Homo sapiens: one gene and its partner. The protein of the gene in region 1 interacts with the protein of each later gene in a pairwise test. Each region holds a gene or a part of one and is shown on either strand. Other genes may lie near its edges.

Evidence for each region.
Region 2: the proteins of SDC4 (region 1) and PLAAT4 interact in a two-hybrid assay, tested with the Homo sapiens proteins (one study listed by BioGRID).

The regions. Positions count from the first base shown.
Region 1 is NC_000020.11:45,324,478-45,331,447, reverse strand, and holds the end of SDC4 (syndecan-4 precursor), read left to right. Parts: intron 1-883; coding exon 884-1,082; intron 1,083-4,032; coding exon 4,033-4,184; 3' UTR 4,185-6,160; downstream 6,161-6,970. UniProt on the Homo sapiens protein: Cell surface proteoglycan which regulates exosome biogenesis in concert with SDCBP and PDCD6IP.
Region 2 is NC_000011.10:63,531,906-63,539,982, reverse strand, and holds the start of PLAAT4 (phospholipase A and acyltransferase 4), read right to left. Parts: upstream 3,176-8,077; 5' UTR 3,115-3,175; coding exon 3,106-3,114; intron 468-3,105; coding exon 359-467; intron 1-358. UniProt on the Homo sapiens protein: Exhibits both phospholipase A1/2 and acyltransferase activities. Shows phospholipase A1 (PLA1) and A2 (PLA2), catalyzing the calcium-independent release of fatty acids from the sn-1 or sn-2 position of glycerophospholipids.

The DNA of each region.
Region 1 (6,970 bases):
ACTCTGGTTCAAACACCTGACATTTTCCCCCTCCCTTTTGTAAGAAAACCCTTAATCCTAAGGGTTGCAGAGGGACAAAGATCCATCTTCTATAACTTCTTCATGCTGAATAGGGTGATGATATTCCTGCTTAACTATTAGGGCCTCTTGTATCCATGGTAGAGAGGGGTTCAGTCAGAAAGGGCCAGTATGGTGAGGGCCATTCATAACTCTTAGTTCTGACAAAAGGTGATATCCAAAGTCCTCCAATCAGTGCTGCAGTCCATTTCCTTTGATTCGGGAGTCTCCTCCGTCTCATCCCTTCTGTGGTTCTCCAGAAAGATGTTACCAGAAAGGGGTCCCGATCCAGACCCCAAGGGAGAGGGTTCTTGGATCTTGCACAAGGTAGAATTCAGGGTGAGTCCATAGAGTAAAGTGAAAGCAAGTTTATTAAGACAGTAAAGGAATAAAAGAATGGCTACTTCATAGGCAGAGGAGCTGCAGCAAGCATCTTTTACACGTAGTCTCTGAAGAGCTCCTTACAATAGAGTTTCCAGGGCAAAACTGCCACCTTAAAGGGCAAGCGATGTCTAAGGTTTTGCCAAATTGCTTCCAGAGTGGTTGCTCTAGAATAACCAGTGGCCAGCAGTGCAGGAGAGCACCTGCTTCCCTGTTCCCTTGGGTGCATTCATTTTTCATTTGGGACAGATATACTAAAAAAGTTGGGGATAAGGATTTTGGCAGCATAATTGTGGAGACAGTGTTGCCAATTCCTGCTCCAGGACCATATGGTTCAGCTGAATATGGCAGAACCAGATTCTCTGCCTGGCTGAATGTCCCTGTCCCCTGCCCTGAGTCTCTTCCAAAATACGCTGAGTGTCTCTTCTCCTTTCCGCCCATCCAGGTGCCTCTAGATAACCATATCCCTGAGAGGGCAGGGTCTGGGAGCCAAGTCCCCACCGAACCCAAGAAACTAGAGGAGAATGAGGTTATCCCCAAGAGAATCTCACCCGTTGAAGAGAGTGAGGATGTGTCCAACAAGGTGTCAATGTCCAGCACTGTGCAGGGCAGCAACATCTTTGAGAGAACGGAGGTCCTGGCAGGTAAGTCCCCATGCTGCTTATAAGATGCCTTGAAGGTGGAATGGGGCTCAGCGGGGGAGAGCACCTGCAGGCAGGGATGCCTCCAGCCATGAGGCTCCTTGGTGCCCCTTCCTTTTGCCTATTCAGGTTGCCCTAGAACATTGAAAGACTACACCTTCCTTATGGGGTGGCTCTGACTGTGCAGCCTGGTGGAGGGAGAGGAAAAAGCACCTATCAAAGTCTTCTGGAAAATAGGCATTGAGTCATTCTTCTGCCTTAAGTCTTTCTCATTTATTTTGCAAAGGACTTTCACTGTATAAGTTTGGCATCTGGGAGTTAATCATTAAAAGTTAATTTCCCTTGTAAGTCTGGAGGCTCCTTCGAATTGGGTTAGCTTCCCCTCCCCCTACTCTATCACTTGGCAGCCTTGTGACCTTGGCTGAGAAGCTTTCGAACTTGATGAGCCTCAGTTTCCTTATCTGTAAAATGGGTACAGTGATACCTTCTGGGGTTGATATAATGAGTCCATGAAAAATAAAATATGAAATAACTTTGCACACTATAAAGGGCTATTCCGATTTGGCCTCAGTTGAGAGTTCTTTACTGGAATGTGCGGTGAGGAATGCTTTGTCCCAGGTGTTGACAAAAGGGATGGAGGGAACTCCCCAAGGTCATGGCCGAGGGCCAGCCTGGATGAACCGGCCTGGCAAGTGGGCACCCTGGGCCCATGCTGGGTAACTCCTGTCTCCTGGGAATCAACAGAGCCAGCAGCTCCAAGGAGGCTTGAGCTATAGGGACAGAGCCTGGCTTCATCCAGGACAGATGGAAGGTCTCACCTGCCTCTTGTAAAGAGGGTTCCTGGGAGCACAGCCCCTGATGACTGGGCCCACCTCAGCCCTGACCCTGGCTTCCTGGTATCTGAGCCAAAGTTCTTTTTACTTTTCTTTCAGAAGTAAAAAGATTTGCATAAGACTTTGGATTTGCATAAGGTTTTGCTCTAATTAACTAAAGGTGCTATTGCTTCTAAAGAAAAATTTGAAAACCACTGATTAATCTAAGCACCTGCTTCTTATACATGGGGAGACTGAGGCCCAGGCTTTAGGCCACATAGTAAGAAAAGAACTGAAGCCAGGTTATCTCTTTAATCTTCCATTTGAGAATTATACAAGCCTAAGAGCCTCATGTGAAAAGTTATATTGTTAGCTGGTGTGGTGGAATCCCCCATTCCAGAAGCTTTAATCAGCACCCAGGAGCCTTATTAAATGCTTGCTGTATGCTGTATGATTCCTGTGCCCCTGATTGAGTCCGTACAACACAAAACTCAGTCTAAAGAACTTATCCGAAGTCACAAAGCTGGAAGTGGCAGACCTGGCATTTGGACTGAGGACCACAGTCAGCTTCTGAGCCTGTGCTTGAAACTTGACCCTGTGGGGCATCCCAGCGCAGACCCAGGGCCTCGTGGAGGAACTGGGGTCATCAGAGGGAAAGGTGATAGAGACAAGAATGGGGTTGATGCCTGATATTCCATGTGCTTGCTCTGGCACCTCCTGGGGGTACTTTTTTGTTGCTTTTTCATAGGATTTTACCCAAGAAAGAACCTTGCTTGACTCCTCTGTGCCACTCTGTCCCCATTGTGTACATAGATTTGTAGTGTGTGCAGGGATGGAAAATTAATCTTCTTAGCCCGAGTAAGACCGAATTAGGGAACTCAATCTGCCACAGAAGGGATTCTATGAAGCATCCCTGCCCCTAGCAAACAGGAATGAGTCATTCAGGCCACCTGGCAGAGTGGACAGGCCAGACCCACTCACTGTTAGAAGCCCATCTCTGCCCAACACTAGGCAGGTTCTCCTCTCGGAGCCTGAAAGTATCATTTATTAAGCACCTCCTGTTGTGCACACCTGATTCAGGGGGTTCGGGACACAGATATAAACCTTAAACCCTTACAGTTAATGAATCTTGAGAATATGCTATGCACTAGGCATTGTTCTAAGCACTTTGAGTGGATTAATTTATTTAATCCTTAGGACAAATGTATGAGAAAGGTATGGCTCTTCCCATTTTGCGGTAGGGAGATGAAGGAAACTTGCCCCAAATCACACAGCCAGGAAGTAGGAGAGGTAGGAGTGGAAACCAGGCCTTAGCTACTGAGTTCTGTATGTAATTGTAACATAAGAGTTTGGAATTAGTATGTTCTGCATGTGTGCACTTTGAATGTACATACCTGTCTATGAAGTGTAGGCTATATAGGTAAATATGCACACAGGGAGAGCTAGAGAGTGCCCTGTGCTAAGGACTGCAGGATAAATATGTCTACAGGGATTTCCATAGCCTACGGTTTTCTCCTGTTCCTGGTTCAGTTAGTGCTAGACTGTTGCAGGGGAGTCCGCGTGGTGTTTGGAAAGAGCCTAGGCTTTAGATTCAGGCAGATGTGGGTTAAAATAGTGGCCTTGGCCGAGTGCGGTGGCTCACGCCTGTAATCCCAGCACTTTGGGAGGCCGAGATGGGCAAGGTCAGGAGTTCAAGACCAGCCTGGCCAACATAGTGAAACCCTATCTCTACTAAAAATACAAAAATTAGCCGGGCATGGTGGCACGTGCCTATAATCCCAGCTACTCAGGAGGCTGAGGCAGGAGAATTGCTTGAACCTGGGAGGTGGAGGTTGCAGTAAGCCGAGATCACGCCACTGCACTCAGCTCGGGCAACAGAGTGAGACTTCGTCTCAAAAAGAAAAAGGAGTGGCCTTACCACTAGCCCTGTGGTCTTCAGTGACTTAAAATGCCAACGACCCACTTCTTATAACTGGGGTCATGAGGTCAACTTAAATAAGGCATCAGCTTGCCTGGCACAGGCAGTGGTGATGGTGAGGATGTCTGGTTGTAAGAGAACTGACAGTGGGGGAAAGAGGGGTTCATCCTTAGGTCCTGATGAGGAGCTCTCACCCCCGCCTCTTCTCTCTCCTCCTCTCCAGCTCTGATTGTGGGTGGCATCGTGGGCATCCTCTTTGCCGTCTTCCTGATCCTACTGCTCATGTACCGTATGAAGAAGAAGGATGAAGGCAGCTATGACCTGGGCAAGAAACCCATCTACAAGAAAGCCCCCACCAATGAGTTCTACGCGTGAAGCTTGCTTGTGGGCACTGGCTTGGACTTTAGCGGGGAGGGAAGCCAGGGGATTTTGAAGGGTGGACATTAGGGTAGGGTGAGGTCAACCTAATACTGACTTGTCAGTATCTCCAGCTCTGATTACCTTTGAAGTGTTCAGAAGAGACATTGTCTTCTACTGTTCTGCCAGGTTCTTCTTGAGCTTTGGGCCTCAGTTGCCCTGGCAGAAAAATGGATTCAACTTGGCCTTTCTGAAGGCAAGACTGGGATTGGATCACTTCTTAAACTTCCAGTTAAGAATCTAGGTCCGCCCTCAAGCCCATACTGACCATGCCTCATCCAGAGCTCCTCTGAAGCCAGGGGGCTAACGGATGTTGTGTGGAGTCCTGGCTGGAGGTCCTCCCCCAGTGGCCTTCCTCCCTTCCTTTCACAGCCGGTCTCTCTGCCAGGAAATGGGGGAAGGAACTAGAACCACCTGCACCTTGAGATGTTTCTGTAAATGGGTACTTGTGATCACACTACGGGAATCTCTGTGGTATATACCTGGGGCCATTCTAGGCTCTTTCAAGTGACTTTTGGAAATCAACCTTTTTTATTTGGGGGGGAGGATGGGGAAAAGAGCTGAGAGTTTATGCTGAAATGGATTTATAGAATATTTGTAAATCTATTTTTAGTGTTTGTTCGTTTTTTTAACTGTTCATTCCTTTGTGCAGAGTGTATATCTCTGCCTGGGCAAGAGTGTGGAGGTGCCGAGGTGTCTTCATTCTCTCGCACATTTCCACAGCACCTGCTAAGTTTGTATTTAATGGTTTTTGTTTTTGTTTTTGTTTGTTTCTTGAAAATGAGAGAAGAGCCGGAGAGATGATTTTTATTAATTTTTTTTTTTTTTTTTTTTTTTTACTATTTATAGCTTTAGATAGGGCCTCCCTTCCCCTCTTCTTTCTTTGTTCTCTTTCATTAAACCCCTTCCCCAGTTTTTTTTTTATACTTTAAACCCCGCTCCTCATGGCCTTGGCCCTTTCTGAAGCTGCTTCCTCTTATAAAATAGCTTTTGCCGAAACATAGTTTTTTTTTAGCAGATCCCAAAATATAATGAAGGGGATGGTGGGATATTTGTGTCTGTGTTCTTATAATATATTATTATTCTTCCTTGGTTCTAGAAAAATAGATAAATATATTTTTTTCAGGAAATAGTGTGGTGTTTCCAGTTTGATGTTGCTGGGTGGTTGAGTGAGTGAATTTTCATGTGGCTGGGTGGGTTTTTGCCTTTTTCTCTTGCCCTGTTCCTGGTGCCTTCTGATGGGGCTGGAATAGTTGAGGTGGATGGTTCTACCCTTTCTGCCTTCTGTTTGGGACCCAGCTGGTGTTCTTTGGTTTGCTTTCTTCAGGCTCTAGGGCTGTGCTATCCAATACAGTAACCACATGCGGCTGTTTAAAGTTAAGCCAATTAAAATCACATAAGATTAAAAATTCCTTCCTCAGTTGCACTAACCACGTTTCTAGAGGCGTCACTGTATGTAGTTCATGGCTACTGTACTGACAGCGAGAGCATGTCCATCTGTTGGACAGCACTATTCTAGAGAACTAAACTGGCTTAACGAGTCACAGCCTCAGCTGTGCTGGGACGACCCTTGTCTCCCTGGGTAGGGGGGGGGGAATGGGGGAGGGCTGATGAGGCCCCAGCTGGGGCCTGTTGTCTGGGACCCTCCCTCTCCTGAGAGGGGAGGCCTGGTGGCTTAGCCTGGGCAGGTCGTGTCTCCTCCTGACCCCAGTGGCTGCGGTGAGGGGAACCACCCTCCCTTGCTGCACCAGTGGCCATTAGCTCCCGTCACCACTGCAACCCAGGGTCCCAGCTGGCTGGGTCCTCTTCTGCCCCCAGTGCCCTTCCCCTTGGGCTGTGTTGGAGTGAGCACCTCCTCTGTAGGCACCTCTCACACTGTTGTCTGTTACTGATTTTTTTTGATAAAAAGATAATAAAACCTGGTACTTTCTAAACTGCTTGCCTCTGTCATTTTCGTTCATAACAAGTCATCCTTTTTGGGCTCTGTATCCCCTTGATCTCAGTGGAGCATGAAGAAACTCCCCGGACCAAATCCCCTACGGGGTGCCAGACATGCCGGGGGTGGGCAGAGGGTGGGGGCAGAGAGGTAAGAAGGCAGGAAGGGGCCTAGAGAAGAGGGAAGACTTCAGAACATGCACCCTGATGGCCTATGCAGCATATCACCCCTACTTCAAGGTTTTGTTTAGGTGGCACTGTGTTTAAATAGCAAACACAAAAATCTTTGCGTCAGTTGCCATCCATAGAAATCAGGAGGTTTCTCATAAAAATCCAGATTTCTCACTTTTCTTGGGAAAAAGAAATAAAAAAAATTGGCAACTGTCAGCCTGCATGGCAACAAGAGAGCTGCTGAGCGGCAGGCACCCATCTAGATGTGGGCTCTCCGCACCACTGTCTCCGCCTGCTTCACTCAGGCCACTGCTGCAGCCAGGCTGGCTGGCAGTCTCCGGAAATAGCATGGGCCATCTTTCTTGACCACTATAACAACCCTGTGAGGTGGGTAAGATCCTTGTTACCAAGAGGGCAACCTGCCCCTAGTGTGTCTGGAGAGTCGAACCTTAATTTCAGGTCCTTGGACATTGGTGATCTTCCTTTGGCACCATGTTGCCCAGTACTTTGCTGGGGTTGGGGAAAGGACGCAAACAGGAATTGGTGGTAGTTGGAGCAAACCCTCCCATACACACCATGTGGCCAGGAACCCATTCTTAGGGCTTTATACCAGATCCCATTTAATTGTCAGATCTCCA
Region 2 (8,077 bases), on another chromosome or scaffold:
TGACTTATTTTTTTATTTTTTGAGATCAAGTTTTGCTCTTGTTGCCCAGGCTAGAGTGCAATGGCACGATCTCGGCTCACTGCAACCTCTGCCTCCGGGGATCAAGTGATTCTCCTGCCTCAGCCTCCTGAGTAGCTGGGATTACAGGTGTGTGCCACCACACCTGGCTAATTTTGTATTTTTAGTAGAGATGGGGTTTCTCCATGTTGGTCAGTCTGGTCTTGAACTCCTGACCTCAGGTAATCTGCCCACCTCGGCCTCTCAAAGTGCTGGGATTACAGGCATGAGCCACCGTGCCCGGCCCTCTCATTATCCTTTTAACAAATATTTTGAAAATTATATATTCATCAGTCCTTACTTGGAGGAGCCAGATGGATCACGTAGCCATCTCCTATATACAGGGCCCAGTGCTCATAGCCAAGGCGGAAAATCTCAATCAGGTCTCCAGGTTTGGGCTCTTGGTGTGGCTGCAACAGAAAAGCCAGAGATGGAGTACCCGGCCTTCTAGGCAACAGCAGAGACCCTGGCTGGGGGAGCTGCAGCTCATCCTGGAGACGCCTTGCTGATGTTCATCAGCTGCTAGCCCCATGAGATCCTCAGCCCTGCTGTCACTTTCAGAGGCTCTTCTCAGTGGGGGCACTGGGGGCTGGAAGCCTGGAGAATGATCTTGTGGGATGGGAGACAGAAGGACCGTCTGGGCGCATGTGTGACATGTGTGTGCTGTGTGTGTGCATGCTGAGGATGCAGATGTGTGTGCATGTGTGCATTGTACACATGCTCCTCAGTAGGCCGACTCAAGAGCCTGCATGAACCAGCACCTTCACTGAGGCCAGGAGCAAGGCTGGGAAGGTGAGTCTTGAGCTCTCCGCCCTCTGCAGACTGACCCTCAGTTCCTCATCACTCCTGCCCTGTGCCTCTCCATGGCCCCAAGAGCCACCTCCTCCTCAGACCTTGCCCCATCCAGCCTCAGGACACCTATCTCTTGGAGATGACACCCTGGGAGACAGGAGCTCACAGCATCCTGCTGGGACCTGAGTGGGGTCTTGTGGGGCCCCCCAGCTCCCAGCACTGAGGGGGCTCTGCACTCACAGAACAGGCCTCTGTGGGAACTTGTCCTACAATAACTGCACCATCTCCACAGCCCCAGGGGAAGGCATGATCATCCCATTGCACAGATGGGGAAACTGAGGATCAGAGAGGTGGCAGGGCTTTCCTGAGAACACTCAGCTGGAAGGAGGCCGAGCTGGTTCTTCCCTGCACACCCCTCACCCTGGTTCCTGTCTTGGCCACCTTCTTCCCCTTCCTCACCTCCTTCCCACTTCTCCATGTCCTGCCCCAGGGCATAGCAGCCTCATGACTGGAGGATTTTTCCATTTTCACCCTCTCTGTCCCTGTCCTCAGTGGGTGACAGCCTCCTCCTCCCTCATCCCAGGATGTCCCATCATAGACCTGGGGTCTGCTCTCCTTTGCCCTCTTCCTCATGCCAATATCCAGTCACTAAAACCAATCAATGTGGACTCCGGAAGCTTCTCCTTGTTGGTGTGCTTGTCAATATCCCATCCACTGACTTGGTTCAGGCAGCCCCATGCCTGCCTCTGTGACCCCCACAACCCCCTGACCAGCCCCTGCCTCCTGTCCCTGCCACTCCATATCCAACTCCTCAGAACCCATGGTGGCCTTCCCAAGGGCACATCTGGCCATGACCGTCCTCTGACCTCAGGGCCCAGGACACACCCTGTGGGCAGCTCCCAGGCCCTTCCTGACTGGCCCTTCCTCACCCTCCTCTCCCTCCCTGGGCTCTGCACCCACAGGCCCACTGAGTGACATCCCAGCCCCTCACTACTGCCCTGGCTCTGGTCTCTGCTGCTCTGCACATCTGGTTCTCCCTGCCTCCATCACTTCCCTGCAGCCACTCTTCCTCTTCCCCTCCCTCAAACCCCCTCACCTGAGAAGCTGCCCTGATGGCCCCAGCCTGGCTCAGCTGACCCGCCACCCCACTCCTAGGACCTGGGTCCCCGGGGGCCTCTGCTGCTCTCTGCAGGGGTCAAGTTGAGCTGCAATTCCCTGTGCCTCCCTGTGCCCCTCTGGGCTGTGAGCTCCAGGCAGGCAGGATCCTGTGTGCTCCTCCCTCCCTGCACCTCCAGGACCCAGTGAAGGGCCTGGCGTAGAATGGGGCAAGGAAATAGACAAGGAAGAGGGAGGAGAAAGGAGCAGGGCCAGGACTCCCTCCCAGCTCCTCCTCTGTATGTCAGGGCACCACAGGAGATGGTTTCCATGTGGGGAGAGAGAGGGGCTTTTAACTGCAATGCTGAATGTCTAAAACCACAGTCAAGGTACTGGCAACCTCAGCTGGTGGCCAGTGAGATATGAGCTTTGGCCTGGGCTCCCTGTTAAAAGCCCTGATTTGTTTTGGCAGCAGTAAAGCCCTTCCCCAGGATCAGGTGGTGCTGTTGGAGTGGGCTGCCCTCCAGAATTTGCAGGACTCCTTCCCGGAATGGTTTTGTTTCTAGTAATAGCCTGAGCCCCGCTGTTCCTTTTTAGTCACACACCACCGAGCTCAGCCTGCTCTCCCTAGAGCTTCTGCCAATCGGTACATCTGGGCTGATAGGAGGAGAAATTTCAGTTTTCAGAAAGCTGCTGAGATTAGAATGCACCTTAGAAGGCTGGATGATGCCACAGAGGAACGAGGAGAGAGAAAGCATCGTTTGGGGCCGAGAAGGGACTGAGCCCCAGTCACAGCAGAAGCAGACGATGTTGGGATTTGCTTGCTTCCCACAACCCAGAGTCCCCCACCTGCCCACACTCTGGCTTCTCCTCAGGCTGAGGTAGATTTGACACCCGGCACCCCACAGCTCTCTACTACATGGGAGTCCCGGGCTCCCCGCACTGTGCCAGTTACGCAGAGGAGGTGGACTCTGCCCAGAGGACTCCCTGTCCAGCTGGGCAGATGCACTTTTAAAAGACAAATACAGTTTTCCATGACAGCCTTCTAAAGACGAGCTCTGGAGCTGTGTGCCCAAGGCCAGGAGCCTGGACTGAGGCCTTTCCTAGGGGGAGCTGCCCAACTGCTGTAGAGTCAGTAATGCAAAGCCCTGGGAAACTTACCGAAGCCATCTCGAAGCCAAGAGGAGGTCTGGTGCTCCTCTTGTTTGTGGATCAGCTTTTATGCTGAAGGAGAGAATTTCACTTTCACTTTCCTTTTGACACTGTTTCAACCTCACTTAAATACTAAACACTGTTTAAAAGAGACAACTGTTTAAAAAGGAGCTATTTCTCTAGATGGAAGGACTAATCATTTCTTACACAAGCCATGGACTCATTGGTGCTTTAAAGCCACCTTGGGAGCAGCCAGAGTCGAAGGGGAGCCCTGAATTTCTGCCCTTGCTTGAGAAATAAAGGTCTTTTCTTTTTTTTTCTTTTTTGTTTGTTTGTTTGTTTGTTTGTTTGTTTTTTTGAGACAGAGTTTCGCTCTTGTCACCCAGACTGGAGTGCAATGGTGCGATCTCGGCTCATTGCAACCTCTGCCTCCCGGGTTCAAGTGATTCTCCTGCCTCAGCCTCCCAGGTAGCTGGGATTACAGGCACCTGCTGCCATGCCTGGCTCATTTTTCCATATTTAGTAGAGACGGGGTTTCACCATGTTGGCCAGGATGGTCTCGATCTCTTGACCTTGTGATCTGCCTCCCCGTCGGTCTCCCAAAATGCTGGGATTACAGGTGTGAGCCACCGCACCTGGCCAAAATAAAGGTCTCTTCTAAAAAGAACCCTGGGCAGCTCTTCCTACTCCAGGAAGGGGAGGCATTCGGAGGCAGGGAGATGTCAATCCCCAGTGCACCCCATAGGACATTGTCTTGTAAAGACACCCAGAAAATATTGGGCCAGAAGTCTTGGGAGAAGGCCAGAGGGGGTGTTTCATTCCATGGGGATGCCCTGGAGGTGAGGGGTACCTTAGACCATGTGGAGCCTGGGAGCTCATGGCCCCATTAAAATGCATTTGGGTGCAAGAAGCAGAACTAAACTCAAAAGGGCTTCAACAGCCTGGACACCCATTGTCTCGGTAACAGAAAGGCAGGAAGAGGGTGACTCAGGTTGGGTTTAGTGGCTCACCAAGGTCACCAAGGACTCAGCAGGCTGTCTCCATTGCACTGGTCCTGGGTCTGCACTGTTGCCCTGCAGGGACTCCCATGGCTGTAGCAGCCTTGAGTGGCCCATTTTTACCTGGCTATGCCCAAAAGATGGAGGGAAAGATAATTCTCATTTGTCTTTTTTTCAGGGAGTTAAGTCTTTCCCACAGTTCCCCAGATGACCTGTTCCCTTCTCCATTGGCCAGAACTGGGCCATATTTTCACACCCAACCAGAGGCCTAGACAGGTGGATCACTTGAGCCCACGAGTTCAAGACCAGCCTGGCCAACATGGCGAGACCCCGTCTCTGCTAAAAATACAGAAAAAAAAATTAGCCGGGCATGGTGGCATGTGCCTGTACTCTCAGCTACTTGGGAGGCGGAGATGGGAGGATCGCCTGAACCCAGAAGTCAGGCTGCAGTCAGCTGAGATTGCTCCACTGCAGTCTAGCCTGGGCAACTGGAGTGAAACCATGTCTCAAAGCAAAACAAAACAAAAAACCCCCATTTCTGTTGTTTAGGTTAGCATGCCTCTGGGTTTCACTCAAAACACTGTTGAACGATGTTGCTGTGTTTGGGCAGAGCTTCCAGGGACCGCTGTGGATATCATGAGGAAGCCTCAGAGCTTTCTCGGGCAGAGCTTCTACAGGTGTCTTGCCGTGGTCAGTTTCTTTGCTGTTTTTATGGCCCTCTGCAGGAGTGTCCATGGTCATTATCTCAGCCACCTTTTGGTTTCAGTTTCTCATCAGGTCTTGGGGGTGTCTGGCCACAGCAGATGTTATCTTATTACCTCAGTCCTTTATACCTATGTTTATCATTTTGAGGGTTCAGCAGTTTCACTGTGGGCTGAGTCACTTGTCGTAAGTGACTCCATTTTGAAATATTTAGGATCACAAAACTCTTTAAGGGGGCCCCCACAAGAGTCTGCATTCAACAATCCCAGAGTCTGGGTTTTTGCCTTGTGGCATAATAAAAATTTTTATTTTTAAATAAATTTATGCCTTGTAGCATAATAAAAGTTTATTTATGCCTTATGTGGCATGATAAAAAAATATATTTTTGGTCTTTGACCCCAGTTCCAGACACAGAGGTCCTAAGACCCTTGGAATTTCCTGAGTGATAGGATGTCATGTTATTCAGAAGGAGTCTCTGTCAAACAAATCTGAGTTTATGCTAATGAGGTGGCTCTTGGTTGAGGAGGGAGAGCTGGATAACTTCAGGTTGGGGACTGATCACCATTATTTAATCAGTAATGTCTACATTATGCAGCCTCCGTAGAAACCCCTACATGACGGGGTTGGGAGAGCTTTGGGGCAGGTGAACACAGATGTGGTGGGAGACTGGCCTGGCTGGAGAGGGCATGGTGGCAAAGATTCTCTGTGTGACCACATTTTAGTCAGGTTCCCAAACCTCTTCCTAGGCACATCTGTACTTCCTTGTAAAATCTAATTTTAGCAAAGGACCCTGCCAAGTCAGTTTAGCAGGAACTTCCCACCCTCAATATCTGACCGGGTTCATCCTTCTCACTGTCCTCCAGGTGATGTCTGATCACCCCGGCCTGTCTTCAGCAAGAATCCTGTTAGTGTGGTTTAACCAGAATCTCTCTTGCCCCTGAGGTTTCCTCTTTGTAATTTTGCATCCACTGACCTGTATGCTTCTCCTTGCCTATGAATTCCCACTTGCCCGTGCTGTGTTCAAGTTTGAGCCCCATCTCTCTCTCTTGCTGCAAAATCCCAGTGCAGTGGATATCAAGCTTGTATCATTAGATAATTTTTTCTTTAACAATGGAAGCTGTGCACAATCACTGCCCCCCATATTAGTTTCTTCTTAGTTTCTTCCATGTAGCTGTTGCTGAGTTGTATCCTTTATAATAAACTGACAATCATAAGTAAAGCAGTTTTCTAAATTTTGGAAGTTGTTCTAGGGAATTATCAAATTTAAAGGGGATTTAGGGGGTCTCCACCATTTGTAGTCAGCCAGGTAGAAATGTGAGTAGCCAGGGAACTCCATTTGTTGCTGAGCCTGGAGACTTTACCTGTGGAGGCTGAGCCTAACTCTGGATAGTTAGCGTCGGAATTGAGTCGGATTGTTGAACATGCGGTCAGTGTTGGAGAATTGCAGGACTGATTGATGTGGACAAATGACATGTATTTGGTTGCTATCAGAAGAAACCATACATGCCCACTTCTGTTACTCGAAAAAAAACGGGGATCATTCGTTTAGTAACAAACAACTTTTCATGAGAACACAGGTGTGGATCAATAGCAGTTTTATTACTTGGCACAAGTAAGGAGGACACTGTGAGGATTCTCCAAAGCAGTCTTCCCTACGAAAAGTGACAGGAGGGTTTTATGGGTGATGGAGAGGGGAGAGGGTGCATCGGCACATGCAGAGGAGGGGTCCCAGTTGCACAGATGCAGTGAGTCATCGTGCCAACACATAGGTTGCATGCTATGGTAATGAAGCTGTAGCTCCTCCGGGGTGGAGACTTTAGCATGGTAATGAGGAAAGTTCACTCAGATTCATCTGTAGGTTGCTGGGATCTGTTAGGAGCTGGTTTTAACCAACCACATGACTGCATTCTATGCAAGGTTTAGGAAGAAACAGGCTACAGGATGGTAGGCTGTAAAAGGCTGATTGCTGAGTTGATTAAATTCCTATAATCCCTGGAAACCCTTGCTGTCTGCTTACACTTCCAGTTCATTGCAGCTTGTGCTGAGGTTGAAACAGCTTGTGGTAGATAGTGTCAGGTTTTAGCTTAGAGTCAGTTCCAGGCAGCTGGGGTCTGTGAATGCAGGACTCCAAAACAGCCAGTGGCCTTTCTTCAGCAGCACCAAAGCTTAGATGCTGCAGGAGTGACGGCTGTATTCCAAGTGACAAACAAGGCTTTCTGAAGCCTGTTCTGCTTTGTCAGACTTGGAGTCCAAACTGACCCACATCAGGATGGATGGTCTGCTCCAAAGGATCAGACATCTAATCCCACAAGAGCACATTAGCAACGGAGACTGCCTCTCTTTCTCTATTGCCTCTTTTTTTCCTAGAGGCTCCAATAGGTAACAATAATAGCAGAAATAATCAGTTATGAAGACTGATTTGTTTTTAATACTCAAAGAGTTTAAATTCCAACCAGCCCACTGACAGCAAAAATCTAGGAAGTTGTGCTTTACCACCAACACTTTCTTCTTGCAGCTTTCCCTGATTGGGATGATATCTCTAGCATGTATGAAATTACAAGCATATGATATTTTACATTAATTTATATTGTATATCTAGATGCAATAGCTGCTGTAACCCAAAAAATATTTGAGACAGCTTTCAGTCAAAAATTTAGAGATTTATTTAGCTAAGGTTTAGGACACATCCAGGAAAAAAGGAACAGAAAACCATAGGAAACATCTGTGATTCGTGCTTTTTCCAAAGTGCGTCTGGGGACATCATTATTTAAAGGGAAAAGTGTGGGCATTAGGGGAAAGAGAAAAGGGAAAAAAAGGGAGGGTAGATAAAAGAGGCAAGTGGTTGCATTCCTTTGAGTCTTTGATCAGCATTCACTGAATCTGCATTTTACATGTGAAAGGAGGGGGTAGAGGAATAGTTAATTATGCATTCATTTCATGCTTAGTGAATCTGGATTTTTATATAAGCAGTCAAATATGCATTTGTCTCAGGTGAATGGAGGGATGACTTATAGTTCTGTCCTTTCTCCCATACCTGTGATGATAAGCTGTCAATTTACATCATCAGGGTGTCATTCAGCAGAACTGTTTTAGGGTGAAGATCTTGGGGCTCACAAAGAATTCCCTTGTGAGCAAATTGTTAGGGAGTTATATAGCTTTTTATTTTTGTAGCTATCTATTTAGGAACAAAATGGGAGGCAGGTTTGGGTGACCCAATTCCTAGCTTGAATTTTCCCTTTGGCTTAGTGAGTTTGGGTCCCGAGATTTTGTTTTCCTTTCCT